Homo sapiens: one gene and its partners. The protein of the gene in region 3 interacts with the protein of the main gene of each other region in a pairwise test. Each region holds a gene or a part of one and is shown on either strand. Other genes may lie near its edges.

The links.
Region 1: the proteins of HPCA (region 3) and CREM interact in binary tests that used the Homo sapiens proteins (3 or more experiments, as listed by UniProt).
Region 2: the proteins of HPCA (region 3) and C1QTNF2 interact in binary tests that used the Homo sapiens proteins (3 or more experiments, as listed by UniProt).
Region 4: the proteins of HPCA (region 3) and AP2B1 interact in a two-hybrid assay, tested with the Homo sapiens proteins (one study listed by BioGRID).
Region 5: the proteins of HPCA (region 3) and IL36RN interact in binary tests that used the Homo sapiens proteins (3 or more experiments, as listed by UniProt).
Region 6: the proteins of HPCA (region 3) and CKMT1A interact in binary tests that used the Homo sapiens proteins (3 or more experiments, as listed by UniProt).

What each region holds. Positions count from the first base shown.
Region 1 is NC_000010.11:35,178,331-35,182,679, reverse strand, and holds part of CREM (cAMP-responsive element modulator), read right to left. Parts: intron 3,809-4,349; exon of another isoform or gene 3,792-3,808; coding exon 3,694-3,791; intron 3,547-3,693; coding exon 3,404-3,546; coding exon of another isoform or gene 3,351-3,403; exon of another isoform or gene 2,833-3,350; intron 1-2,832.
Region 2 is NC_000005.10:160,353,047-160,357,395, reverse strand, and holds part of C1QTNF2 (complement C1q tumor necrosis factor-related protein 2 isoform 1 precursor), read left to right. Parts: intron 1-2,052; exon of another isoform or gene 2,053-2,124; coding exon of another isoform or gene 2,125-2,169; intron 2,170-2,375; coding exon of another isoform or gene 2,376-2,384; coding exon 2,385-2,628; intron 2,629-4,349. UniProt on the Homo sapiens protein: Involved in the regulation of lipid metabolism in adipose tissue and liver.
Region 3 is NC_000001.11:32,885,099-32,889,902, forward strand, and holds the start of HPCA (neuron-specific calcium-binding protein hippocalcin), read left to right. Parts: upstream 1-1,392; 5' UTR 1,393-1,417; intron 1,418-2,399; exon of another isoform or gene 2,400-2,465; intron 2,466-3,779; 5' UTR 3,780-3,800; coding exon 3,801-4,178; intron 4,179-4,804. UniProt on the Homo sapiens protein: Calcium-binding protein that may play a role in the regulation of voltage-dependent calcium channels. May also play a role in cyclic-nucleotide-mediated signaling through the regulation of adenylate and guanylate cyclases.
Region 4 is NC_000017.11:35,607,554-35,611,902, reverse strand, and holds part of AP2B1 (AP-2 complex subunit beta), read right to left. Parts: intron 3,762-4,349; coding exon 3,516-3,761; intron 1-3,515. UniProt on the Homo sapiens protein: Component of the adaptor protein complex 2 (AP-2). Adaptor protein complexes function in protein transport via transport vesicles in different membrane traffic pathways.
Region 5 is NC_000002.12:113,057,138-113,062,226, forward strand, and holds the start of IL36RN (interleukin-36 receptor antagonist protein), read left to right. Parts: upstream 1-2,060; 5' UTR 2,061-2,104; intron 2,105-2,274; 5' UTR 2,275-2,301; coding exon 2,302-2,330; intron 2,331-3,714; coding exon 3,715-3,800; intron 3,801-4,986; coding exon 4,987-5,089. UniProt on the Homo sapiens protein: Inhibits the activity of interleukin-36 (IL36A,IL36B and IL36G) by binding to receptor IL1RL2 and preventing its association with the coreceptor IL1RAP for signaling.
Region 6 is NC_000015.10:43,692,079-43,697,195, forward strand, and holds the start of CKMT1A (creatine kinase U-type, mitochondrial isoform 1 precursor), read left to right. Parts: upstream 1-1,780; 5' UTR 1,781-1,972; coding exon 1,973-2,121; intron 2,122-2,448; exon of another isoform or gene 2,449-2,632; coding exon of another isoform or gene 2,633-2,725; coding exon 2,726-2,924; intron 2,925-3,127; coding exon 3,128-3,223; intron 3,224-3,609; coding exon 3,610-3,831; exon of another isoform or gene 3,832-3,832; intron 3,833-3,960; coding exon 3,961-4,046; exon of another isoform or gene 4,047-4,050; intron 4,051-4,161; coding exon 4,162-4,285; intron 4,286-5,117. UniProt on the Homo sapiens protein: Reversibly catalyzes the transfer of phosphate between ATP and various phosphogens (e.g. creatine phosphate).

The DNA of each region.
Region 1 (4,349 bases), on a different chromosome or scaffold from region 3:
TAATAGTAAGTCAATATAATAAGGCCAACTTCTGCCAAATATCTTTCAACTATTAAAAATGTAACTGCTTGTATATGGGAAAACTTGAATATACTTTATTTCTTCAACTTTGATACACATTTAGTTCTTTTAAACACCAGCTAACTCATTATTCCAAATTAAAAATAACTAATAAAATATTGGAAAAAAAGAAATAAAAGCAAAGTTTGGGAGAAAGCCATCCATGGATAAAAGCTGAACAATTAAACCTAAAATTTTTTTTTATAATAAAAGGTTATGAAAGAGCATTAAAAAAAATTTACAGCTCAAAGGGAAGGAAAAAAATAGGAAAATCTCCAGAAATTCTAATAAAATACGTTCCTCTATTCAAAAACCAAAGGAAACTGGCAATTGTTTCCATTTCTAGACATTCTGCTACAACATTAAAGCATTAATATCTGCTAAGTTAGTTCTATAAAAAATAAGATCAATAAAAATGGATGTTGTGTGTGTAAGTATGTTTACCCTCCAATTAAAGTAAACGTCTTCTAAAAAGTTTGAATGTTGTTAGTATTCACTTCTCAAAGAATTATCTACATATATTTCACTAAATGTCCCCAAAATGCATTTTTAACAAAAGAAATTCACATTGTGTGAACAAATGGCAATTTTTACCTGCAGACTGTACATACAGAACTATAACTTCTCATCAGAATAATTTCTAGGATCATACTGTATAGACTCAAATTAAGAAACCAAAGTAAGAAATAGTCCATGACCTCTTATGTGGCAAATAGACAGATGTGTTTTTTTTGTTTGTTGTTTTGAGACAGAGTCTCACTCTGCTGCCCAGGTTGGACAGTGCAGTGGTGCAATCATAACTCACTGCAGCCTCAAACTCCTGGGCTCAGAGAATCCTCCCACCTCAGCCTCCTGAGTAGCTGGGATGAGCGCATACCACCACACCCTGCTAATTTTTAAAATTCTTTTGTAGAGACAGGGTCTCACTCTATTGCCCAGACTGGTCTCAAAGTCCTGGCCTCAAGCAACCCTCATTGCCTAGACCTCCCAAAGTGCTGGGATTACAGGTGGGAGCCATCACACCTGGCCTAAGATCTAATTTCTACAGATGCAGTTTTCTAGTTCTCAACCAAAATTCCTGACTCTGCTCCTCTCATCCCCCCCACAGACACACAGAGTGAGGTTTAAGGCCAGCCCCCTGCTGTGAGCAGGTACCAAGGACACAGGGAATGAAGCCATTGGGGCTGGCTGGAGGGAAAGTTCAATGAACATGAATGAGACAATGGTACACCTAACTTAATTTCTCTGTTTCATGCCAATAGTAGCATGTCTTTTTCCCCCTACTTTTACCCATTATCTCCTTTGTCTTCACAGGAACCCCAGAGTTTGGCAATTTAGTATTATTCCCACTTCAAAGACTAAAACCTGAGATGTGAATTTAATAAAGCTTCTTGCTCTGATCATTGAGTTTGCAAATGGCACAAAGATGGTTCCTTCCACATCCTCTCCAGCTTCAACCCCATACATTTTCACAATTTCAAATTTTCAGCTAATAATCTAGACAAGTTAACCCTACAGCATCTGCTTCCCTATCAACTTGTAAAGGAATCACTGCTTCTATCAGAAGTCCTAAGTAGCATTAGCATATGCCAGAGAAATGTTACGATGACAGCATCTTAGTGGTTCCCAACACTTTGAGAAGTCTTAGTGTCATTTCAGCAGTCACTTCCAACCTTTTCCCTGTCATTACACAAACAGAACATGATGACATGTGTACAGCCCACTGGGGTGAGTGGATGGAGCTGCTCAAGGCCAGGGCTGACCAGCCAGGAGGCGCCAGCAGCTTCTGCCCAGCCCCTCTGGGGACGGGGGGACGAGGCACTCAGCACTCTCATAACCTGCGTGCTGTGCTGTAGAGGCTCATCAGCTGGCATATTCAGTTTTACAGTTCTAAAACCCACCAGAGATTCCCAGTGTGCCAGACAAAAGAGCATGTAAACGAGAGAAGTAATAAAAAAATGACAATGTAAACCTCAAGGTCTATTTCTTACAGATGGTGGGGATTTTCTTTTCCTAACACTGACTTTGGACAAGTCTACTGGGTGCCCTGTCAAACGTGTGAATACACTACACCCCGGATCTGCTAGGTATCATGGTAGGAGTTCCCCTCAATTACCAACAGAGAATGTATTTAATAGTTTACTACTGCAAATCTACCACTGCTACAAGAAAAACTCTAAAAAGCTCCACAAAAATAATGACTATATAAAGTCTTCTCATACATTAAAGATTATAGCTTGTTTTAGTAGTCAGGACTTAAATTAAGACTTGAGTTTTTTTTTCTTGGTATTGCTACTTTTTAAAGGAAAAACAAAGAATATATCTAAAATCTTAATACCTTATTTGGATAAACACATTATTTAATATCACATATATTCCAGTACCTAAGTAGCTCTTTTTAAAGTCAGAAAACTAAAATTATGAATCTCTTCAACAACATGACTGCTGTCAATATATTTGTTCAATTACTTTGAGGACCTAGGGTAGCAGAGTTTACAAAACTCACTTTACTTCATATTATAATTACATGGGAAATTGATTTAGACAACTTCCATGGACAATTTATACTTCAGAAAGGACAGGAATATCACATTATTCCAGTACCTAAGGGGCTAGCTTAGGATATGTGATATCCCTAACCTTTCTCCTCCTTTTTCTTTTCTTTCTAGCTCTTGCTTTTTACGTATCAAACACTCTTCTTTTGGGAAAAAAACTAGTGCTTTAATCAGAGCAAAAAGCACAGAATTAACGGTCCATTAAAATGCACAAGACTGAATGTGAATGTATCTGTTTATTTAGAGCTTTCAGTGTGTAAAATTTCAAATAAAATTATCTATCCAATTGCTACAGTTTAAAAAATTAAATCATTTTTCCATTCTCTTTTAGGAAAAACTGTAGCACAAATTAACAGAGTAGAGAGTAGTGAAACATTGAAAACATACTTTAGAAAACTCTCAGATTAGTAAGAATAGTATGTAATTGTGGGTAACAAAAGCCAACAAGAATGAAATACAGACATTTATGTTCGCATGCATCATAAAGACAACAAAAACAATGTTTTACTAGAGATTAATATAAACATGTAAATAGGAAAAATTCTCCTTTTTACCCCAAAATTTTCTTCTATATTCGGCAGTCAAAATTTTTACTTTTCAAAATTATATGACAGCTGTCAATACAAAGATCTCACTTTTTAACATATACTTTCATTCTATGATACAGTTTAGGTATTAATGATGCATTTTAAAATGGAACAATTTAATGCCAAAACCTGAGTTGCTTCAATATAACTAGAGAAGACTTAAAGCTAGCACTGTATCATATCGAATTGCAGCATACATACTGTATTGCCCCGTGCTAGTCTGATATATGCTAGTTGGTACTGCCATGGTAGCAATACTAGGTGGTGTTCCTTCTTCCTCTGATCTCTCTTCTTCAATCTTGGGAACACCAGGCACATCAGAGGACAGTTCATTCAGTATTTTCCTAAAATACAATTTAACAAGGTAAGTCACTAAGATACATGAATAAGTCTTAAAACAGAAAAGCTATAAAGGAAGAATTGATTTGATGTATAATTATTCTACCATTTTGGAAAAAGTATCTTTACATTAGGAAACTTGGTTAACTTACCTATAAGAGGGTCTTCGTGAAAGGATTTCTCTACGTTTATGAGAATCAATTACACCTTCTGATTCTGCAGATTCATCTGTCTCTGCAATTGCTGCTACCTATAATACAAGATTTTCTGAAATGTATCATAAAATATATGCTCTTTTCCCTCATTCAAAAAATTGAGGCTAAGAGTCTGTGTGTGCAGCACTGAGCCAGGAGCTGTGGAAGCAACTGAGCAATAGAACACAGTGAATCTGCACTGAAGGAGTCTGGCTCAAGAAAGGAAGCGCAGACGCAAACATTTCAGTTATAAAACAAATGTGTGTGGAAAGGAATGTTACGGGTACTCTATACTACAGAAATACTAGGGAAAGAGTGGTTGGGATGTCAAATGAGGCATTGCAGGAAAGAACAAAATGTAAAATACCCAAGACCTAAGCTCCTCAACCTGAAAGTGCTCCTACGAATCCAGGAGGGAGCCAGCGAGGGGCCAACGCAGAAGAGAGCTCCCGGATCACACTGCTGTTCCCACACTCTCACAGCTGGCGCTGGCGTGAGCTGGGTCTTCACATTAGCCATCAGATAGGCCCAAGACAGAATATTTAAGTAGATAAGCAAGTCAGTAAGCAAGCCTGGGTAAAATCAGGATTTCTATTACAAGGAGTAAGTTAGGG
Region 2 (4,349 bases), on a different chromosome or scaffold from region 3:
CCTAGGTTGAGCAAGTGTGACATCAGAAATACAATCAAACTGCATCCTTATTTTTGCCTACCCCTCCCTACTTATAATTTAGTCAGTGAGGGGAGCTCCTCCTCCCCCTGGTTGAAGTCTCCACTCCCAGGCAACCCACACCTCAATTTCCATTCGAAGGTGAGATTTCTTCCTGCTCCCCCAGTGAAGGTGTGAAACGGGCAAGGCCATCTGCTCCCCTTGTCAGCTCACCTGTTTCCAAGTTGAAGGGAGGGGAGGTACAGGGACAGGAGGAGGATTTCTAGATGTTTCACGACTGGGGCGGGCCTAGACTGCTCTGTGTCTCTGTGCCTGGCAGACATTTAAAGCTGTCTTTTCCATGGGGGCCTTTTGCAGGCTCTTTGGGAGTAACCATTTTGGGCCCTGTGATTGTCACACTGCTGGGATGTGGGCAATGAACATTTTCCTTTCTCTGCAAGTCTAGGCCTTCCCCTCAGCATCTGTTTCCAGGGTTAAAGATCCTGGAGGGGGCAGGAGGAGAGGTATGGTCAGCCTGTTTCTGAGGGGAACAGCCAGAGGCAGCCGAAAAGCCTGGACAGGCTCCAAGAGCCAGGGGCCAAGCAGAGTCTGAAGGGAAAGGGGATTGAAAGCCCAGAAGGAAAAATGAGTTCCAAAGGTCAATGCCTGAGTAATGCCCCTGCTGTGCAACCAGGACCACAGCTGCCGAGGATCCCCCTAATACTTAAACGCTCTGATTGGATAGCCACAGGCTGAGTGAGGACTACAAAGCCCACAGTGCTTTGTATCTGGAAAGAGAACAGATTGAAGTCTGAAAGGCTCAGCATTGGAGCTAGAAGAGACCCTAGAGACCATCTACTCTAGTGGTTCCCAAAACAAGGTCTCTGGACCACCATCAGCAGCATCCCTTGGAAACTTATTAGAAATGCAAATGGTCCAGCTTCACCCCAGAACTAATGAATCAGAAACTTTGGGGATAAGGCCCAACAACCTGTGTGCTAACAAGCCCTCGAGGTGAGTGTGATGCGCACTGAAGTTTAGGAACCACTGCTCTAGCCCAGCCCCTGTTGTTCAGGTGAGGAAACTGAGGCCCAGAGAGGGAAAAGGGTTTGCCTAAGGTCACAAAGCAAGTTGCCATTTTATAGTTAATCGCCATGGCAGGAAGTCATGCCTGGGATGTTCCCCCTCCTGGTTTCATTCTTGAGAGAGAGGCTGTTAATTACAAAGCAAAGGAACTGATTTGTTGAGAGATCTTGGGCAAGTTGCTTATTTCTGCTCTGGGTCTCAGTTTCTGCGTATGCATAGTGAGGGCAGGGAGTAGATACCTCCAGGTGCATAGCACACTGATCTCCAGTGGGATCGTGCTATTGCTGCCATCAGCCTTAAGGACACGGTCTAGCCTGGGACAGGAGGGCACAGGCTCTGGATCTGGACAGCCTGGTTCAAACCTTAGCCCTGCCATCTACTCATCGCATGATGTAGACCAGGAGTGTCCAATCTTTTGGCTTCCCTGTGCCACATTGGAAGAAGAATTGTCTTGGGCCACACATAAAATACACTAACGATAGGTGATGAGCTTAAAAAAAAATCGCAAGAAATATCTCATGATGTTTTAAGAAAGTTTACAAAACTTGTGTTGGGCTGCATTCAAAGCCATCCTGGGGTGCATGCGGCCCACAGGCCCCGGGTTGGAAAAGCGTGATGTAGACACATTGCTCAACTTCTCTGAGCCTCCGCTTCTTCTCCTGTATCTATTCTATAAGGGTATTGTGAAGATCAAGTAATGAATGGAAAGCTCTTAGCACATGCCTGGCGCACAGGAAGCGCTTGGGGGAGGAGCTGCTACCACGGCCTGCCAGGGTCACTCAGGTGATGGTTGACCTCCACTCAGTAACTGAATCCTCAGCCCTCCTCATGTGCAACCCTGAGTCTCCCATGAGAAGCAGACTAGTTGCAAAGTCACCTACAATTCAAACATTACCCTTGTAGAACTGTAACTTTCTATTCATGCCACAGATTTGGATGAAACCATGGATCATTTCTCTCCATTCACAGCTCCTCCCAGTCATCAGTCTCTGGGTCATAAGTTCTGCATCCATTTCAGCCACTCTGGAAGATGATGGTCTGATGATGAATGCCTCACCCCCGAGACCCCTTCGAAGTGTATTCTGGGTAATGACTCCACTCACCCAAATATGTCCTCAAGATATGACGACTCTGTCCACATCACATCTACTTGTATGTGATGCAGGAAAGAGCAAGAGACAGAAATCCAACTGAGTGTATCCCAGCTGCCTCCTCCTGTGCATCCCCTCTGACCAGCCCCAGGTCAGCTTGGTGGCCACACTCACCTGTCACAGCTCTCTTGCCTCCCACAGGTAACCACCATGATCCCCTGGGTGCTCCTGGCCTGTGCCCTCCCCTGTGCTGCTGACCCACTGCTTGGCGCCTTTGCTCGCAGGGACTTCCGGAAAGGCTCCCCTCAACTGGTCTGCAGCCTGCCTGGCCCCCAGGGCCCACCCGGCCCCCCAGGAGCCCCAGGGCCCTCAGGAATGATGGGACGAATGGGCTTTCCTGGCAAAGACGGCCAAGATGGACACGACGGCGACCGGGGGGACAGCGGAGAGGAAGGTAAGAGGCCTATACGTGCCACTCTCGTTCCCACCTGGCTGACAGCATCCGGCATGTGGGGGGCATCATGAAGTTAATAAAACTAGTATTAATCCTCTTCATTATAAATCAAATTACTATTTACTTATAAATCTATATATATATATATATATATATATATATATATATACTTTTTTTTTTTTTCCCCTTGAGACAGAGGCTTGCTCTGTCGCCCAGGCTGGTGTGCAGTGACATGATCTCAGCTCACTGCAACCTCTGCCTCCTGGGATCAAGCAATTCTCCTGCCTCAGCCTCCTGAGTAGCTGGAATTACAGATGCATGCCACCATTCCTGGCTAATTTTTGTATTTTTTAGTAGAGAGGGGGTTTCACCATGTTGGCCAGGCTGGTCTCAAACTCCTGACCTCAAGTGATCCATCTACCTCGCCCTTCCAAAGTGCTGGGATTACAGGCATGGGCCACTGTGCCCGGCCTCAGAGCAGTTTATTCTGAAAGGAACATGGGTATTGAATTTTGTGTTCCTGCCCCCGGTGCACCTTTGGGTTGCTAAGTGACTTTGGAAAAGTCTCCCAAAATATTACTGAGAACTCTTGATAATTGCAAGTGACAGAAACTCAATTTATAGTCCCAAATGGAATGTATTAGCCCATAAAACTGAGACATCAGGCCAGGCGCGGTGGCTCACACCTGTAATCTCAGCACTTGGGAGGCCGAGGTGGACAGATCACTTGAGGCCAGGAGTTCAAGACTAGCCAGGCCAACATGGCAAAACCCCATCTCTACTAAAAATACAAAAAATTAGCCAGGTCTGGTGGTGTATGCCTGTAATCCCAGCTACTCTGGAGGCTGAGGTAGGAGAATTGCTTGAACCCAGGAGGCAGAGGTTGGAGTGAGTTGAGATCGTGCCACTGCACTCCAGCCTGGGAAACAGAGCAGGACAGTGTCTCAAAAAAAAAAAAAAAAAAAAAAAAAAAAAAAAAGCCTGAGAAGTCCAAGAGCCAAGCTCCAGGAATAGCTGAGTCCAGGAGCTCAAATATCATTGTCACGGCTCTGCTTCTCTCTGTGTTTGTTGTATCCTCACAAAGGCTAGAAGTTCTGAAATAGCACTGCTGGGCTCCGGCCCACATCTTCCTGGCTTCATCCACAGAGCAAATCTCAGAACAGCCAATTCTCCTTGGCCACATGCGTATCCTGGACCAATTCCCTTGACCAAGGAGGTGAGGTGCCTCCATTTGCAGGGCAGGCTCATGGACCCACCCCTGCGTGTGTGTGAGTGGGTGGTGGGGGCAGTCAGTCATTGTGACTGACAGCCCCGCTAGGACCGTATGAAATGAAATGGTGAAGGGCAACTCCCCAAAGGAAGGGATGCCAGGCAGACGGCGAGCAGAATGGATATACTCTACAGACCTTTCCGTTGTGACATTCCTTATATCTCCAAACTTTCACCCCAGCAACCAAGCACTTTTCAGTGTCAGCAGCATCCCTAAGCCTACATTTTAAGCAGTAGAGAAATATAATAATTTTTATTTGTATGGCATTTTAATATTGACAAAGCACTTTTGAACATGTTGCCCATCTGACCATCCATATCGTGTGCCGGAGGGATTCTTATTTTCCCCATGTTACAGATGAGGATACTGAGAGTCAGAGTGATTCAGTTGATAGCAAAATGTCATCCTCGCAAGAACGTGAACTTTGGAAACAAACCTGGACACTGATTTT
Region 3 (4,804 bases):
AAATGCTGCCGGCTTTACCTGCGAAGTAAATCCAGAAACCAGACCCACCCCGGCCATCTCTCAGCCTGAAATGGCCCCTTCTCCCACCTTGCCCCCAACTCCTCAAAGTCTCTTCTTGACATAATAACCCAAGGAAGCTGTCCACATGGAGGTCACACCCTCTCACTCTGCTCAAAGCCCCCCAGGACTTCCCATCTCATCTGGAATAAAAAGCCTAAAGTCATTGTCATAGGCCCCAAGGCCCTGGATGGCCCCAATGGCAGTTACCATTCTAACTGCCACACCCAAATCCCAACGTTTAAAAACACATGTCTAATATCGACATGTATATTGTGTCCATTGTTTATTGTCTGCGCCTGTAGTCCCACTATCTAGACAGAACAATGCTGGCCGCAGAACTAGTGTTTTATATGTATTTGTGGAATGAATGGATGAGGGCGCACACACTGGAAAAATCACTTAACCCCTTTGAGCCCATTTCTTCATGGGGACAATAAGGACCAACCCCTAGAAATGGAAAAAGGACAAAATCTCAGCCCAGCATGCGGAGAATGTTGCTGAGGCTGGGGGCAGGAGGAGCTGGGCTAGGGGTCATCGACTCTGGAGAGGAGCTGTGCGGTCGGCAGGCAGTGGGTAGGTGCCACAGGATCCCCAGGCAGATGTTCTGCCCTCCTGTCATGGCCTGCACAATCAGAGGCTGGGGAGGGAGGAAGGGAGGGGGTTTCCTTGATTGGAAGGGGGAGTGGGAGGAGCAGCTGACACCAAAGTTGGGAGGTGGGATTAATTCTGAGAGGGGGGTCGGGGTGAGGTCTGGAGTGGTGGGTTTGACATGGGGGCCGGCTCGCCAAGGTGGAGGTGGGGAAGGGGGCGTGTCTGGTCCCCTACCCCGAAGACCTCAGTAGCTGGAGGAATGGGCGCTCCACGCTCCCAGCTCCGTTAGTTGGGAGTTGAGGCGCAGGAGCAGGGAGGGTGCCCAGGGTGCCAATTCGGCCCTCGAAGCGACGTGCGGCTCAGAGCCCAGGTGGGTATGGGGAAGGAAGCGGGGCGGAGTGGCCTGGGATCGCCCCCGGCTCAGGAGAGAGACCTCTTGGCACTACCGTGTCCCTCCATTCCGGCCACCAGAGCCGAGGTGCCGAGGAGAGGGGCGCCGCGATCCTCCTCCCCGGGCAGGGTGCTCCCTCGAGGGGGACCGGGGAACTGAGGGCGTCCCCTTCTCTCCGGGGCGGGGGTGGGGGGCGGAGCCCAGCGCGCCGCTCCCCAGCCCCCAGGGCTGGCGGGGACCCCCCCAGGGGAGGGGCTCCGGGTGAGCGCTGCGGGGCGTCTCCCTCGCAGTCCCGCCCGCCCCTCCTGCCGCCCCTGCCGCGCGCGCCGCAGCAGCGCCGCCTTCCCTGCGCAGTCGGTGTCTCCGCGTCGCTGGGTGAGTGGGGGCAGCTCCAGCCGGGGCCGGGGGATGAGGGCAGGGGGTTCCCGGAGCTGGGGGCCCACGTCCAGGGCTTCCCAACACCGCCGCTCCCGGGCTTCCCGGGAATCCTTGCCCCGGGTGGCGGGGGCGCTGGGGACTGGGAAGCGCGCGGTGCTCTCCAGGGTCCTGACCGCCGAGTGGCCGGCCCCTAGGAACCGCGTTCGACCGCCCTGGAGCGCCCCCTCCAGGAGGGGCCACGCGCCGGGCGCTGTCCTAGTGCTGAGCGGATGGAGGCGGGGGCTGGGGGACAGAGCTGAGGGAGGTTTGGAGCGGGTCCCCGGGGCTGGCTTCTCAGGTCGAGCTGAGGGGGTTCTTCCCATATGGGGGACTGGAGGTCTTTGCGGGCAGCTGAATCTTCTTGCAACCGGGAGGGGCAACTCCGAGGGTGGCAGGGCCCAGGGGGCACTGGAGGAGCTCTCTTGCTCCGCGCATCTCTCTGCCCCCACCCCGGTGACCCAGTTCCTTGGACCTTGAGGAGGGCAGTGCGGGACATGCCCCAGCCCTTCTCATTTCCTTAGCCCTTTCCCACTCACTTGTCCGGTGGGTCCTTAGCCTGGGCCATAAGAGGCTGGTCTAGAAAGGAGGGGCACCAACTTACAGAAACATGCATGTGACACACCGCCGAGGACACACACGGGTCCTCCAAATGGCCACACGGGCTCATTCCCTCACGCTGTGACGGGTGCATACCTGATCACATGCACATCTGAGGCACATGCAGGGACATAGATGGAAAGACACGGCAGGCAAATGCAATGCAAAAACCAGCGGCACACATCATGCATGAGCACATGCACTCACAACACACCCATTCACATGTGTGCAGAGCTTCATGCACATGTATGCACAAGGAGGCCCCTCCTTGCCCTAAGTGGGTGGGGGTCACCTGCACACACGCCTACATCCTTGTGCAGAACTGGCTGGCTGTTTCCTCTTCATTGCCTTCTACTCAGCCTCCACAATCTAACCTGCACTCAGGGGACCTTTCAGGACTAGATGAAGGGTAAGTGTTGGGGAGGCTTGGATGGGCTTGGTGGGGGGTCTCCTTGGAAAAGGGGCCCCGAGCAGGTCTGGGAAGGTTTGCAGCTCCCTCTCCTGGGACCTGGCAGCACCCCTGGGAAAACAGAAGGAAAACAAAGAAAAATGGCAAGGGTGCCTGAAGGTCCCACGTGCAGCTGGCCATGTGAGAGGTGTCGGCATGCGAGTTGGCGTGTGATGGCATGTGTGAGACATGTGGGGTCGTGGGCTGGTGTGTCTTGATGCACAGGGTATGGGAGTTGTGCGTGGTGCCATGTGTCGATTCGTGTGAGTTGTGGAGCAGAGGGAATGTCGTCATGTGTGGAGGCATGCTGACCCATGGGTGGGCGTGGGCTGGTACGTGAGTGGCATGGGATCCAGGGTGTGGATCTGGTGAGCTATGAAGCATACAGTTATCGGTATACATTCATTTGCACAGTTTTTGCATGAGTTTTGTGGCACCTGGGTATATGTAAGTCATTTTTATTTATTTAACATTTATGTAGCACTTATCTATGCAGCCATGGTTCTAAGTGCTTCACACATATTAACTAATTTAATCCCCAAAACAATCCTCTTAGGTAAGTACTGTTATTACCCCACTTTAAAGATAAGGCAGAGAGAGTTTAAGGAACTTGCCCAAGGTCACATAGCTGGTAAGAGGAGGAGCTGGGATTCAAACCTAGGTGATCTGACTCTGGAGCCCACAGTAACACCTCCCTCTGCTGCCTCTTGTTGGGCACACCTGTCAGAGGGAGAACAGGGCAGTGTCTGGGCTGCGGGTATATTCAGTGCTGAGCAGGCACATGTGAGGCAATGAGAAGGCAGTGGGTAGGACGGAGGAGGATCAGAAGGTTTTTCTGCACCTCTGTGGGCAACTCTAGGAGTCAGCCTCATAATGCCATGGCTGTGTGACCTGAAGCAGCCACCTCACGTCTGTAAGCCTGCCTTCTCATCTGTAAAATGGGGCAAATCCCCATACAACCTGTTGCGAAAGTGAATTGGTGTGCATTTGTGAAGGCTTAGTGGCTGGCACCTAGAAGGGCCTCAGTAAATGTGAACCACCCTTCCCTTCCTCCCTCTCCCAGGAAAGCGTATGGTCCAGGGAGATGGTGTGGAGCATGGCATAGATACAGGATGCCTGGGTCTAGGCTGTGTGACCTTGGGCCAGTTCCTCTCTTTCACTGGGCCAAACAAGAGGCAGGGATGGCTGTTGGCAGGGGGGCCCATCTGGAGCAGTGTCTAGTAGCCAGGAGGGCCTGATCACTCCTCTCTGCCCTTGACCCCCTTGGGGACCCAGGTGGGACTTGGCTCGGCGGCCATGGGCAAGCAGAACAGCAAGCTGCGGCCCGAGATGTTGCAGGACCTGCGAGAGAACACAGAGTTCTCAGAGCTGGAGCTGCAGGAGTGGTACAAGGGCTTCCTCAAGGACTGCCCCACAGGAATCCTCAATGTGGATGAGTTCAAGAAGATCTACGCCAACTTCTTTCCCTATGGTGACGCCTCCAAGTTTGCCGAGCACGTCTTCCGCACCTTTGACACCAACAGCGATGGCACCATAGACTTTCGGGAGTTCATCATTGCGCTGAGCGTGACCTCGCGCGGCCGCCTGGAGCAGAAGCTCATGTGGGCCTTCAGCATGTATGACCTGGACGGCAACGGCTACATCAGCCGGGAGGAGATGCTGGAGATCGTGCAGGTGGGCCCCTGGGCCCCTCAGAATGCCAGGCACAGGGCCCGGCAGCTTGCACCCACCACCCCTTTTGATCCTCTCAGCAGACCTCGTAGGCATGTGGTGGCAGGGGATATTCTTGCAATCCCATTTTAAAAATTGTTTTTAGGAAATATTTCCCATTTAAAGAAAAGTTGAGAAAACTCCCCTATACCCTCTACCCAGATTCACCAATTAACATTTTCCCACAGTTGCTTCATCATTATCAGTGTGTGTGTGCGTGTGTGCACACTAGTGTGTAACATTTTCTTGCTGTTCTGAACATTGGCCCTTTACCCCTGGATACATTAGGATATATTTCCTAAAAATAAGCACATTCTCTTACATAACCCATAATATGATTACCAAAGCCAGGATATTTAACATAGAAACAATGCTATTATCTAATCTACCAACCATATTCCAATTTTGCCAACTGTCTCCATAATGTTCTTTATAGCATTTTTGGCCCTGACCTGGGGTCATGCATTGCATCTAGTTCTCATGTCTCTTTAGCCCCCTTTAATCTGGAATAGCTCCTCATCCTTTCTTTATCTTTTATGAATTGACATTTCTGCAGAGCACAGTCCAGCTATGTCTAGTTGATCCTCATT
Region 4 (4,349 bases), on a different chromosome or scaffold from region 3:
CAGTTTACTATAATATTATGATATACTAAATTCAAATAGAGACCTATTCATGTGCTGCCTGCTTAAATTTTATATAGCTAGGGGATGGGGAAAGAAAATAAGTAAAACAAGATTGGCATGTATTGATGACTAGTGAATCTAGTGATGATAAATGAATTCATTTTATTTATTGTATTCATTTATTTGTCCTAATTTTGAATGTTTGAAGATTCCCACAATAAAAAACACAAATACATAAATAGCATACGTATGCCACCTGATTTTATGGACTAGATGAAAACTAGCTCTCTCCTTTGCAATGTAAACTTTGAATAAATCGGACAAACTAAGCTTGTTCCAGAATCATTTTATTCTTCTCGGTTTATCTGGATAAAGATCTCTAAATGTGCTACTTGAGTGTGTGTGCGCACGTGCGCGCGCGCACACACACACACACACGACTTTACTGCTAAACATCCCTTAGGCCTTATCCCTGACCATCTAACTGTATAGGTTCTGCATTAAAGAATTTACATTAGCATAGAGATGCTGCCTCAAACTGGAGTCGCCTGTAAGTTAGAACTCATTTTCCCTTTGAGCCATTCCATATTCTTAGCACCACTGAATATTTAATAAGTTTCCACGGGGTACATGATATTCTGCCCACCTGGTTGACGGTTGCAGCACAAACACTTTTCATCTCATCTGTCCTCAGGTAGAGAATTATAGATAGTTGCTCAGAATAACAGTGAATCAAAAGCAATGCCAAAAACACAAGTTGGTGCCAGCTAAACATTCTGTAAAGTAGATACTACTAACTTTAGACAATATTTATTTTTCTATATTTTTGAGGAAGGGTCTGTCTTTGTCACTCAGGCTATAATGCAGTGGTGCAATCATAGCTCACTACAGCCTTAAACTCCTGGGCTCAAGGGATTCTCCCACCTCGGCCTCCCAAGTACCTGGAATTACAGGCATGCACCACCACGTCCAACAAAATTTTTTTTTTTTTTTTTGAGACAAGAGTCTCGCTCCGTCACCCAGGCTGGAATGCAGTGGCACGACCTCGGCTCACTGCAAGCTCCGCCTCCTGGGTTCACACCATTCTCCTGCCTCGGCCTCCTGAGTAGCTGGGACGATAGGCGCCTGCCACCACGCCCGGCTAATTTTTTGTATTTTTAGTAGAGACGGGGATTCACCGCGTTAGCCAGGATGGTCCTGATTTCCTGACTTCGTGATCCACCCACCTCGGCCTCCCAAAGTGCTGGGATTACAGGCATGAGCCACTGCACCCGGCCCCACCGAATTTTTTAAAAAAATTTTTGTAGAGACAGGGTCTCAGTTTGTTGCCCAGGCTGGTCTCAAACTCTTGGCTTCAAGTGATCCTTCTGCCTCAGCCTCCCAAAGTGCTAGGATTATAGGCATATGAGCCAACATGCCTAGCCAACTAATTTCTTTATGTAATTTTTAAAAAGGGGGCTGGGTGTGATGGCTCATGCCTGTAATCCCAGCACTTTGGGAGGTCAAGGCAGGTGCATCACCTGAGTCAAGAGTTTGAGACCAGCCTGGCCAACATGGTGCAACGTCGTCTCTACTAAAAATACAAAAATTAGCCGGGCATGGTAGTGGGCACCTGTAATCCCAGTTACTAAGGAGGCTGAGGCAGGAGGAGAATCGCTTGAACCCAGAAGGTAGAGGTTCCAGTGAGCCGAGATCATGCCACTGCACTCCAGACTGGGCGACAGAGTGACACTCCATCTCAAAAAAAAATAAAAAATAAATAAAAGGTACCATATGGTGTTACTTAGGGGAAATAAAAGGCAGGGTTGAATCTTCTAGTACTGGTGGTGATGCTCTGTCAGAAGTCATGGTTAAAGCATCTGCACTTCCACACCCACACCGACGCCCACCCTTATGCCTAGGTTGAAAGATTTCTAATGGTAGTTACTACCATAAAAACCTTAAAAAATTATGACTTGCTTCATCCTGTGGATTTAATACTAATCTTGAAGGATAATAAACAGAAGCCAAGGCTACCTGTAAAATAAAATGAACCAAACAAAATGTCAAAGCAGAGAAGTGAACAGGTAATTTACAAATGAGAGACAGCATCTATGTCCAGCCAAATTCTAATTCTCCATTTAAAGTTCACTAAGAAAATATTCAGGCCAAGCACAGTAATTCACTGAGGAAGGCCAAGGTGGGAGGATTGCTTGAGGCCAGGAATTCATGACCAACCTGGGCAACATAGCAAGACCCCATCTCCATAAAAAATAAGGCTGGGTGCGGTGGCTCACACATGTAATCCCAACACTTTGGGAGGCCATGTCAGGTGGATCACGAGGTCAGGAGATCAAGACCATCCTGGCTAACACGGTGAAGCCCCGTCTCTACTAAAAAATACAAAAAATTAGCCAGGCGTGGTGGCAGGCGCCTGTAGTCCCAGCTACTCAAAAGGCTGAGGCAGGACAATGGCATGAACCTGGAAGGCGGAGCTTGCAGTGAGCTGAGATCACGCCACTGCACTCCAGCCTGGGCGACAAGGCAAGACTCTGTCTCAAAAAAAAAAAAAAAATTAGCGGGATGTGGTGGCATGTGCCTGCAGTCCTAGATGCTCAGGAGGCTGAGGTAGGAGTGCTTGAACCCAGGAGTTCAAAGTTACAGTGAGCTATGACTGCACCACTGCACTCCAGCTTGGCCACAGAGCAAGATCCTATCTGTAAAAAATAAATAAATAGATAGATAAATAATTTTTAAAAGGGAATATTCAAAGGTTATCCACTGATTAACTCTTAGTGTTATGCACCTTTCAGTAAACATTGCATTAGACCAAAAAGGTAGCACTTTAAAGAAAGTGGCTATTTTCCTCCATCTTCCTGGCAACAATATTTAATGACCCATCCAATATATTCAATTAGTACCCAATTCAAATGAGCTTTAGTTATTACTGGAGTCAAACATATCACTTGGGACTTGACCTTCTTCATTATATAAGCAAAGTTTAAAATGTCAATAAGGAAAAGGTCCCAAAACTTTAAGGTGTTAAGCTATGTTCTGGCTGCTAAACATTTACAACATAACCAAGTTGGCTAAAAATAATCTTGCCCTAGAAATTCCCCTATAGAGAAATGCATGATAATAATTAGGTAATAAAGATCATTTTCATTCAGTTTCTAGTCCCACACCACCAGAAAATACCACAAATATTGATCTGAAGAAAATAATCTTAAATATATATAAATTTACGGCCAAACCTCCTGAAGAAAATGATGAAAGTTTTCATCATGGGCAATATGGGCAAATATGAGCATAAGTACAATACAAAGATTTGCTTTAAGATCCCTGCATTTTAGTACTTGGTTCTCACCTCAAAAACACCTAGGATATGAAATATACAATCTGTGAGACACACAAAGTCATGTTTCCCATAGCTACCCCATAACCCAGTATTCCAAAGACAAGGTTCATATTAAACACGCTTTAACAAGGGACTCATTTTAAATACTGCTCTCTTTGTAAAAGCAGAAGCTTATTACCATTGGATTTGAATCTGCTATGAGATCCCGTAGAGAATCCAGAAATCCCTGATCTTCCACCATTTGGGCATTGATATCATGGAGTTTTGCCACGCAGACTGCTGCTGTTTTCCGAACATAGGGATCCTCATCCTTCAAGCACTTGCGGAGCGGCTCACAGAGATATTCTGTAATTTTGTCTACCCGGATGCACCCCATGGTTCTGACTGCCAAGGCTCGAATCAAAGGATTAGGATCTTCACAGTCCTGCAGAAAACAATCACCAACAACTGTAGGTATACATGGTGGCTAAAAGTAAACAGTCCAGTTTATGTAAGCTGCAAAAGAATTACCTCATTAATTTAAGCTTCCAGATACATTCTACATGAGCTCCAATCTTCCATGCTATTCCTTTCCTAAGTACAAATCTTAGCTGCCCTATTTAAGAGTTTAGGTGAAGAAGTCATTTAACTGTTTTAAATACAAAATGAGAAACAGCTCAGCAGGATTCACTCTAGTGCCAGGCAGAGGTTTAGGGAGTTCGTACCATCCCACAGCCATTAGGATCTACCCTAAAAACAGGAAAAGCTTTTGGGCTTGTATTCCGGCACAGGAAAAAAAAAAAAAAAAAAAAGAGGAGCTGTAAAGACCGTGCCCTACTCCACAGTGAGTTCCTAAACATCAAATAGAAAAGAGAGCTAGATTTCTGTGGCCTGCAGCCAAGAAAACAAAGGGGAGCACAGGAGCTGGTCTGGGCTTGAAATAAGTACCTGGAGTTAAGCAGCAGAGAAGGCCCTCTGAGCTCTTGGCTAACATACATTCTCTTTTACTAGCAAGTGCTTCCAAATATAGTAA
Region 5 (5,089 bases), on a different chromosome or scaffold from region 3:
GGCTAAGTTACGTTTTAAAGACAGCTTTATGACTTGTGAGGCAATAAAACTGCACCCTTTGGAGTTATCTTTTCTATCAGACAGGAATAATGTGTAATTTATCAATGTTCTCTTAGTTCATGGCTAATTTCACAGAGTCTGAGACCTAATTAGTAAGTCAAGCAAAGGGATAGGTCCAGAGAGAACTTATTGTTGGTGAGGCCTGTTTGATAATGTTTTCATATAATATTGACAGTATACACAGTCATAGTTTCATTTTACTTATTATTTATTTATTTATTGAGGCAGAGTCTAGCTCTCTCTGTCATCCAGGCTGGAGTACAGTGGCTCAATCTTGGCTCACTGCAACCTCCACCTCCCAGGTTCAAGCAATTCTCACACCTCAGCCTCCTGAGTAGCTTGGATTACAAATGTGCACCACCAACCCGGCTAATTTTTGTGTTTTCAGTAGAGATGGGGTTTTGCCACGTTGGCCAGGCTTGTCTCATTTCATCTTATTTCTACTGTCATTCCATTTGGTCAATTTGTAATTTAATAATTTTGTACAAGGCAGTTTCTACATTAATTTTATTTTTCTGAAAAGTGTCTATCATATTAGTGGCATTATGAAAATCGTAGATTATTTTCTGTGTTTTGAACAACTTGATATTTTATTTATTCTTGAACACTTGTAGGACCTCTTGGCTCATATGTCTGAATACCATTTCTTTAAAATGTACGCTTTAACATGTACACATATGTAACAAACCTGCACATTGTACACATGTATCCTAAAACTTAAAGTATAATAATAATAATAAAAGAAAAAAGAAAAATAAAACTTAAAAAAAAAGTGTATGCTTTAACAATAAATTATTAATAAATAGTTATCTGTGTTATTCAAGATATAATTAAATTGTTTTTTGTGCACTGACCCTTACCTTTATTTCAGATCCATCACAGAGAGTGCATGGAGGTATTTAAACTGCATTAACTGTTTCACAATTAAGTATTATCTTATCAATTAGGTATTCAAGAAAGATCACTTACAGAATTATAGATGGCATGAGCTAGATTTTACTTTCTAAAGAAATAACCAGATACATGAGCAAAGATGTTAATACAAAGATGTTTGTCACAACATGGTTTTCAATAGCAAAAAAAGAGAGAAAAATATATAAAAGACAAATAACAGTGGATAGGTTTCAATAAATAATGTTACAGTGATACAGTTAAATACTATACAGCTATTGAAGCATGTCATTATTCATATTTAGTATGGAAAGATATTTTGCTATTTTGCCACATGAAAAAATGAGGTTGGAAAAAGTATAGGTTTTGTGAATCTGTTGTATGAAAGCTGTCTATAGTTACATGTGTATGTGTGTGGAGGAAATAGTGTTGTCATTGGTTTTCTGATGATGCACTCAGAAAAGACAAGTATTCACATTTTTTCTTGTGGCTGATCTGGATTTTCAGGTTTTTCTACAATGAACATGTAGGCTGAACATTCCCTAAGCAGGAGAGTCCCACCTCTAACATCTCCTGTAGGCCTGGCAATGGCAGGCAGGAAAGACAGAGGAAGGAAGGAGGGAGAAGGGAAGGAGTGAAGGAAGGAGTGAAAAAGGTAAGGAAGAAAGGGAATAGGGGAGGAAGGGAGGAAATGGGAAGGGAAAGAAGGAAAGGAAGGAAAGAGGGAGGGAAGAAAGGAAGGGAAAAGGGAGGGAGTGAGTGAATGAAAGATGGAAAGAAGGAAGAAAGGGAGGGAGGCAGGGAGGAAAGAAAGTCGCGCTTCCCTTGAGCTGCCATGGGCACTGACTCTTAGGGTCTGAAAGCCCCTGAGATGCAAAAGCCTAGTGCTCACAAAGAGCTGGAAAGCCTCAAGGAAGTTCTTCAATATTTCTGGAAGGAAACTGTCTCCAGAAGCTTCCCTCCCCACGACAGATAATGAGCAGCAAGTGCTTCTGGCGACTTAGGGTGATGTGAAATCACGCTGGGAATCCTGCTCCTCCTCAGGTCCTGGCAGTTTCAGGGCCCCTCCCTAGGCCTTACTTAAAAGGCTGAGGCATCCTTGGAGGAACAGGCAGACTCCACAGCTCCCGCCAGGAGAAAGGAACATTCTGAGGTATGCTCTGGGGCGCTGGTGGTACCGGAGCTCTCTCCTGACCCCAGACCCAGAATCTGCTCCGTGGAGGCTGTTCACATGCTGGGGAGCTCGGTGCAGCTGCTTGCTCCCCAGACCCCAGCCAACTCAGCCTCTCTCTCCATGATTTTCTGTTGTTTATTCCAAAATAGGGGAGTCTACACCCTGTGGAGCTCAAGATGGTCCTGAGTGGGGCGCTGTGCTTCCGGTGAGTGTATGAGGCCCTGGTTTGGTGGTGTCCTCCGGAGGAAGTGAGTTCTGGATAGACCCGTTGTCCAGCTCTGAGCAGGAGGGAGGAAGGGAGGGGCTGCCATTGCAGCTGGGAAATTGTGACCAGCACCTCACTGCTCTTAGAGTTTTCCCAGCCTTTTTCAAATAGGGGCAGGACTGGGGCAGGCCATCTCACAAGGGGTCCCTGATGCTGAGGGGGATAAGTGAACCTCCCAGTCTAGAGCTCCAGCCAAGTCTATCCAAGGTGGGAACGGGGGCCAGGATCCCTGCTCAGAGCTCCGCCATTGTCCCCCATCACAGTGAATGGATGTAAGCTCACCCACTCTGTGCCCCTGCCTCCCTGCTACTCTTTGGGGATAATAATAAAACAAAAACCATTACCATCAGTCAGTCTGTCCACCCACTGGCATGTACCAAGCCAGACACTCTGCCGTGTTCTGGGCTTTACAACAGAGGATGAGAGTGGTCCTTTCTCTCAGTCTAATAAAGCACTTCCCATGATGTGTTCTATGGGACTCGATTAGAGGAGTCCCACAGAGGCATCCAGGAGATGCTTTACACAGTGGAGCTCTCTGATCAAGTAAATGCAGGGAATTCTGCTTTCTACATCCTCTCATAAGAGAACCACAGCCCAGCTCAGCATATGAGTGACTCTGAGGTTTTCTGAAGTAAGGCAACTTGTTGAATTGTATTTAGCCATGCATCGACCCAATTTTTACACTGCATCCTTTTCCCCCATATAACTTTTGGAGAAACCCACTTTAGGATACATCTTCCACCTCATAGGATGCCAGGAAATCAACTGAGTTCAAAGATGAGAAACAACTTTGAAAAGTTAAATAAAAGAAATTTAAATTTAAAGAAACTCCTCACTTAGTAAGGAATATATGACCAAATAGAAATACATGTATCTTGAAGAATTGAAGAATCAGGCTTTAACGTGGAAGAGGCCTGGATGTTATCCAACCCATCATCTTAGTGTAGCAATGGGGAGGCTCAGGCCCAGAGTGGGCGAGAGAGTTGTCTCCTGCGACTCAGCAGCATTGGAGGCAGAGATGGGGCAAGAACCTAGGGCTCTGACTCACCGTGCAGCTTCTCTTCCAGCAGGAGATGGGTTGGGGCAGAAAAGGTTGAATAGGGTGAAGGAGCAAACCACAGACTCCAGTGGGAGACTGTGGGGTCATCCTCCTTGTAGGGCATGAGCCCAGCAGGGCTGGGAGACAAGGCTGTGCTGTTACTTCTGGCACAGTAGGAAGAAAGAGAGACAAAATGCCTGAGATCAGGGGGTTCTCTGGATCCAGGGCATGCTGGAGTGTCCACCCTCCTCCTAATGTAGTCCTCACCCCTTCCTGATGTTTCAGAATGAAGGACTCGGCATTGAAGGTGCTTTATCTGCATAATAACCAGCTTCTAGCTGGAGGGCTGCATGCAGGGAAGGTCATTAAAGGTTGGTGATGAAACATGACCCACTTTCCTTGGTCTCTATACACTCTCAGGGGAGGGGGCCTGAAGAGGGCTTAGAATAGTCATACAGATTAGCATAGGCCTACAGAGCCCAGGCATTGGGGCAGCACAAACCAGGCTCTAAGCAAAGGCAAATAAAATACTACACCTCTCAGCAAAGTGAAGACACAGGCTCTGGGGCCACCTGAAGCTTCTATGCAGAAGTGGGAATGTTTTCCAAGAGGCTTGTCTTGTCATTCCCTTACAGGTAGATTTAGGTCAAGCATTGCATTCCCTGGGAGCCAGTAAGTACCAAGGAGAGAACTAACGTAGATTCTCTATACCTTTTTTCCCATATGGGAGTGGGTTTCTGCCTCTCCACCCTGGGTCCCCTCTGCTCTCTGAAGATCCTCAGTCACTTAGAGTGGAGGGACCCAGAGAACAGGTGGCATTGTTGGACCTCCTGCTTGCTCACTCTGCCCCATGCACTGCAACACGTCCCTCTCTAAAATAGTTTGCACCTGCCCACCTGGGGCACCCTTGCTGAGCACAGATGCCAGGTAGATCCTTCAGCTAGGCCATATGTGTATGTGTGTGCTTACTGGTGTATGTATGTGTGCATGCAGGCATATATGTGTGAGCATGTGTGCATGCATGTATCTGTGTGTAACCATGTATGTGTGAGTGCAGGTATGTAGGTATGAGCATGTGTGTGTATATGTATATGTGTGCATGCATGTATCTGTGTATGTATGTATCTGATGTATGTGGGTGGTGAGGGGATGTACAGAGAGGAATGAGACCCTCTTTTGCTCTCAGCAACATCACAGGGTGTAGAAAGTTGTCCAAACAATTCCAAAGGGGGGCTTATCAAGACAGGGTTCAGAAAAAGGCCTGAGACCCAAGGGACATTAAAGGAGGGGGTTGAATCTATTTTGGGGTGTAGAGGCTTGAAGATTTGACCCTGAACTAGAGGGTGGAGTGGAGGTGGTACAATGTGCTTCCATGCCTTGATGTCCACTCTGAGCCAGTGGACAGGAGAAGCCATGTCATGACAGCTGCTGAGAAGCCTCCCTTCTGCCCAGCCTGGGGGCAGGCCGTCTTACAGCAGTCCTGTGCCCTAGAGCCCAGGACAGGGGAAGAAGGAGGGAAAGGCATCCAGGGCCCTGCATCTGGCCTCTTTCCCACAGGTGAAGAGATCAGCGTGGTCCCCAATCGGTGGCTGGATGCCAGCCTGTCCCCCGTCATCCTGGGTGTCCAGGGTGGAAGCCAGTGCCTGTCATGTGGGGTGGG
Region 6 (5,117 bases), on a different chromosome or scaffold from region 3:
TTATCTCTTCCCACTTCCTATTCCTTAGTAACACCCTCTCAATCAAATAGCAACCCTACTGCTCTGGAAGATTATCTCCCTATTTATCTGGATAAATACACGCTATTCTAAGAAATTATATTTATTTACTCATGGCTACTTTTCAACCTAGGTAAAGAGGCCCCACAACACAGGTAACATTTTCCACACTACAGCTGCATAACTCTGTTCTCTAATAATTGATGTCTTACCAGAAGAAGAAGGGATGGACCCAAGAGAGAAGTGGACACTTCTAAGAATACCCACAAATGACAAAGGTAGAATAAAAGGACACAAGGAAGGCCTAAGGAGAATGAAGGGAATGAGAGTAATATGGGGGAATTTTCTATGTAAAGGGAATTCTCTTTCCCAAATACTCTCTGTTAAGATTTCCAAGTATCTGTCTTGTGGGTACACCAGGATAGCAGAGGGAAGGGACTAATGCCACGGTGCTACTCCACCTTAACTGACCCTCCACGCTGAAGCCCCTCATCTCTATTTCAACTCTAGCATTCATTCTCCTTGCTACCAGGACAAAGGTCAAATCATACCTGGAGCTGGGAAACAAAGCCCTCTCAAATCTGAATATGTGTTTCACGAGGAGAGAGAGAGCAGCAGAGGGGACCACGAGGAAGGCAGAGATTCCCTGACCACCTCATGCCTTTGTACACCACTCGCCTTTACTCTCTGGATTAAACAGCATTAGGGAGACAAGAGAGGAAACACATGTGGTGTCTGGAGACCTGTGCCTGCCTGTTCCAGTCCCACACCCAGTCATCTCACCACACCCTTCACCTCACTTTACCTTCTCCTCCAGCACAGGAACTAGGAACTACGGAGAGAGAAGCCAAGGGAGAGGAGGAGGAGGAAACTAACGATTCCCTGCCCACCCCCACACCCAGCACCACCAACAGGTGGGCAAGCTTGCCGAGAAAACGCAGAGGGCATCCTGTGAGCAGCAAACACATCTGAGCCTGGAAAAGACGCAGAGAAGTAAAAGATCAAAGGTGAGGTAGGGGACGTGGAGGAAAGTGGGAGAGACAAAAGGAAAACAAAAAGTGGGGGATCATGAGAAGCAGAGGCAGGAAATAACAGGGCTTCAGACTTGGGTGCAGAATGGAGGTGGAGGACACAGCACAGATGGCATAAGAATTAATATTTCCTTGGTTCCTCCCAGGGAGTCCTTTCTCAACTTTGTAAGGCGTGCACAGAGGTGGCAAGGAAGCACCTTGCTCCTCTTCCTGGTTCTAAGGAAAAGGTGACCTTGAGCCAGTGGGTGTCTTTCCCAGTGCCTGCCTCTAACCCTGTGCTTTCTCCATATCCTCCTCTGGTATCTGTGTTTATTCCGCGGTTTCCCCGCGGCTGCCCCCGGGAGACCGAAGAGGTGGCTGGGGCAGGCCGAAAGCAGAGGAAAGGTTGGGCAGTGTCACCCTTGCACACCCACAGGGTAGACGGATCGAGTTTCAGCTTAAACCGAGGGGTGTGGGGGAAGGGTGTTGGGTTCAGCTAGTCCACGTGGGTGCTGTCCTCCACTTGGTGCTGAAATCTGGGCGGCCACATCCCCGGGGCGGGAGGGGGCTACATCCCCGGCTTTAGACGCGCGAGTCTCAGGTCCCGCTAATTACCTGGCGGGTGCTGCCCACCCCTGCCCTCGCGCACCTAGCGCGGTGGCAGGCGGGAAGGCGGGGCCTGGGGGAGCCCCACCCCTGGAGACTGCGGCTGGGGCCTCCCTCTCCTCCGCCCGCCCGCCTGCCACTAGCTCATTGCGCCTCTCCTGCAGTCTGATTGGCACCGGCTCCCATTCCGGCTCCAGCCTCCAATCCGACCCCCATTTCGGCTGCAGCCTCGGACCTAGCTCCGGCCCTCGGTCTATCCGGTTGCATCCTCCCTCCCTGTTCCGGATCTTATCTTGCGCCAGCGCCTACTCCAGGATCCCGTAGCCAGACCTCAAGCCATGGCTGGTCCCTTCTCCCGTCTGCTGTCCGCCCGCCCGGGACTCAGGCTCCTGGCTTTGGCCGGAGCGGGGTCTCTAGCCGCTGGGTTTCTGCTCCGACCGGAACCTGTACGAGCTGCCAGTGAACGACGGAGGCTGTATCCCCCGAGGTAACAGTGCCTGAGGCGCGGGAGGAGGCGGGGGCAGGAGGTGATGGGAACGAAGGTGCGGGTAGAAGTGAGAATCCGGGCAACAGAGAAGGGCTATAATCACGAAGGCCCTGGAGCTGGAGGGCTGTGCAGTCTGCAGACCTCAGTGGGGTGGGGGTGGGGGCCAAAACCATAAAGCAAGAACATTCCTGGGGACCTGCCAAGACCAGCTCTGGCCCTACGAGTTCTAGCTGCACTGGCTGCCCAAATCCCTAATTGTAAAGCCAGGAACTATCCTTTTCGCTCCCCTCCATCTCCTTCCCTCATTTCCTCAATTCCTCTCCTTAGGCTTTTCCCCTCCTCCATCCGTAGTGTTGTGTCATGGGAGGAAAGAACTGAGCAGATCTGAAGAAACTGAGCTGGCCAGCCAGAGGCAACTAGAACTATTAGGAAAGCATAGACTCTGAAAGTCCCTAAAGAGATTACCAAGGTTTACCCTCTTTCTAATTCCCCCTCCTCCCGCGGAGCAAAGCCAGACATGGCCAACTGGACAGCTCCCAGGTAACTGCACTAGGTCTAGGCGTCTGTGCCCTCCCTCCATGGTTACTGGGTACCCCCTCCCCAGCGCTGAGTACCCAGACCTCCGAAAGCACAACAACTGCATGGCCAGTCACCTGACCCCAGCAGTCTATGCACGGCTCTGCGACAAGACCACACCCACTGGTTGGACGCTAGATCAGTGTATCCAGACTGGCGTGGACAACCCTGGCCACCCCTTCATCAAGACTGTGGGCATGGTGGCTGGAGATGAGGAGACCTATGAGGTAGGGGGTCCCCAGAGTCTCCCTGATGATCCAATTCATCTTCCCAGTAATCCCAGCTCCTTTCCCCTAAAGACCTCTCACTTTCCCCCAAGACTCTGAGCCCCCCATACTTAAGTTTTCTGAACCAGTGAAATCAATGCACAATTGAAGTCTGGGGAGGGATTCCCTCTCCTTAACCATCTCTCCCTCTTAACTCCCCTTAGGTATTTGCTGACCTGTTTGACCCTGTGATCCAAGAGCGACACAATGGATATGACCCCCGGACAATGAAGCACACCACGGATCTAGATGCCAGTAAAGTGAGTTCAAATATCCCACTTCTGATTTGCATTGCCTGTGTACAACACTCTGTATCTCCAACCCCTTCACCTTATTTCCTGACTCATGGTCATTATACAGCTGAGCTTTTAATCTTAATGTAAGGAAAGAATCATATCTTAAGGGGCAGCATATATGGAGATGGAAGGATAGATAAGAATGACCATGACCCAAGGTGGGTGGTTTGGGGAAAGGTCTGCAATGCCCCCTTCAATTCCAGTGCTTTCCCAAAGGGCCTCTTCTTCCAATGCATGCAGGAAGAATGCACAAAGAGTCCTCTAATGCCTAAGGAAGGTCTCTCCTTTCCCAGGGGCCCTCAGTTCCCACCGTGTTTCTGTGACTTACATTCATTTCCCTTATCTCCCAGATCCGTTCTGGCTACTTTGATGAGAGGTATGTATTGTCCTCTAGAGTCAGAACTGGCCGAAGCATCCGAGGACTCAGTCTGCCTCCAGCTTGCACTCGAGCAGAGCGACGAGAGGTGGAACGTGTTGTGGTGGATGCACTGAGTGGCCTGAAGGGTGACCTGGCTGGACGTTACTATAGGCTCAGTGAGATGACAGAGGCTGAACAGCAGCAGCTTATTGATGTGAGGGCCTTAAGAGGGTGCTGGTTGGTGGGAGCAGATGGGGAAGGCTGGGCCAGATGAGACATGGGCTCTGAAAGGCCCAGGGGCCACCATGAAGATTCTTAACCCAAGTCCCGTTACTCTTCCCAGGACCACTTTCTGTTTGATAAGCCTGTGTCCCCGTTGCTGACTGCAGCAGGAATGGCTCGAGACTGGCCAGATGCTCGTGGAATTTGGTATGAAGCTGCTCATTACCTCTTTTGTCTTCATGCCCTCATAAATGCTTTTTTTCCCTCTATCTCTCCCAATTCTTGCCTTGCCTCTTGATCACTGTCCCTCTCCGGCCCTCAGGCACAACAATGAGAAGAGCTTCCTGATCTGGGTGAATGAGGAGGATCATACACGGGTGATCTCCATGGAGAAGGGTGGTAACATGAAGAGAGTGTTTGAAAGATTCTGCCGAGGCCTCAAAGAGGTTAGAGAAGATTGTGTAGGGGAGCTAGGTGGGAGGACATAAGGAAAACCAAAGAGTAGCATAAATAGATTATGTAATTTATCAACCAACCCAAGACATGTCTGATGGTAAAAAGGACTACCTAGGACTCACTCTAGGACTAAAGGTATAAACCAGCTGGGACCATACTGGGAAAACCAGGACATGTGGTCACACTAAGATTAGGAAAAGAGTGTCAGGAACCTTAGAAAGTGAAGAAGGCAGGTAATGCAAAGAAGGAATAACTGAGATGGCACGTCAGTGCCTGGGATGTGTGCAGTGGGATGGTGAGGTGTGCAGATAAGGAAAACATTCGAGCTTAGATTGATGTTGGCGGGGAGAGGTTGCTGTGTTCATGACTCTAATATAACCACCCAGTTCTGAGACAAGGTAGGCCTTGACTCTGGATTCTATCATTCTTGTTAAAGTATCGGGTCTAGGCTTTAAGTTGAGAGTTCAGAGGGAGACTGGGGAAGGTGGAGGATAGAATGGTTCGAGTTCTAGAATATGTGGCTCTAGATGAGAGGTTGAACTGAATCATCAATCCTACATGGATTGGGTCTCCGTATTCAAGTCTACATTAGAAATCCCCATAAACTCAATTCAATTCTTACTGTATGTTCTCAAACATACAGTTCTATTTTAGGTTTGCAAAGAAAAAGAGCTCCTCTTTTAGATTCTGAGAAGTTTCTACTATTTTTGGCAAGTAATAGATAACATATTCTGACTATGAGTGGGTAGGGAAGTACCTTTAAATTATATGCCTCAGTTTCCTCATCTGTAAAATTGGGATAATGAGATTTTCTACATTTTA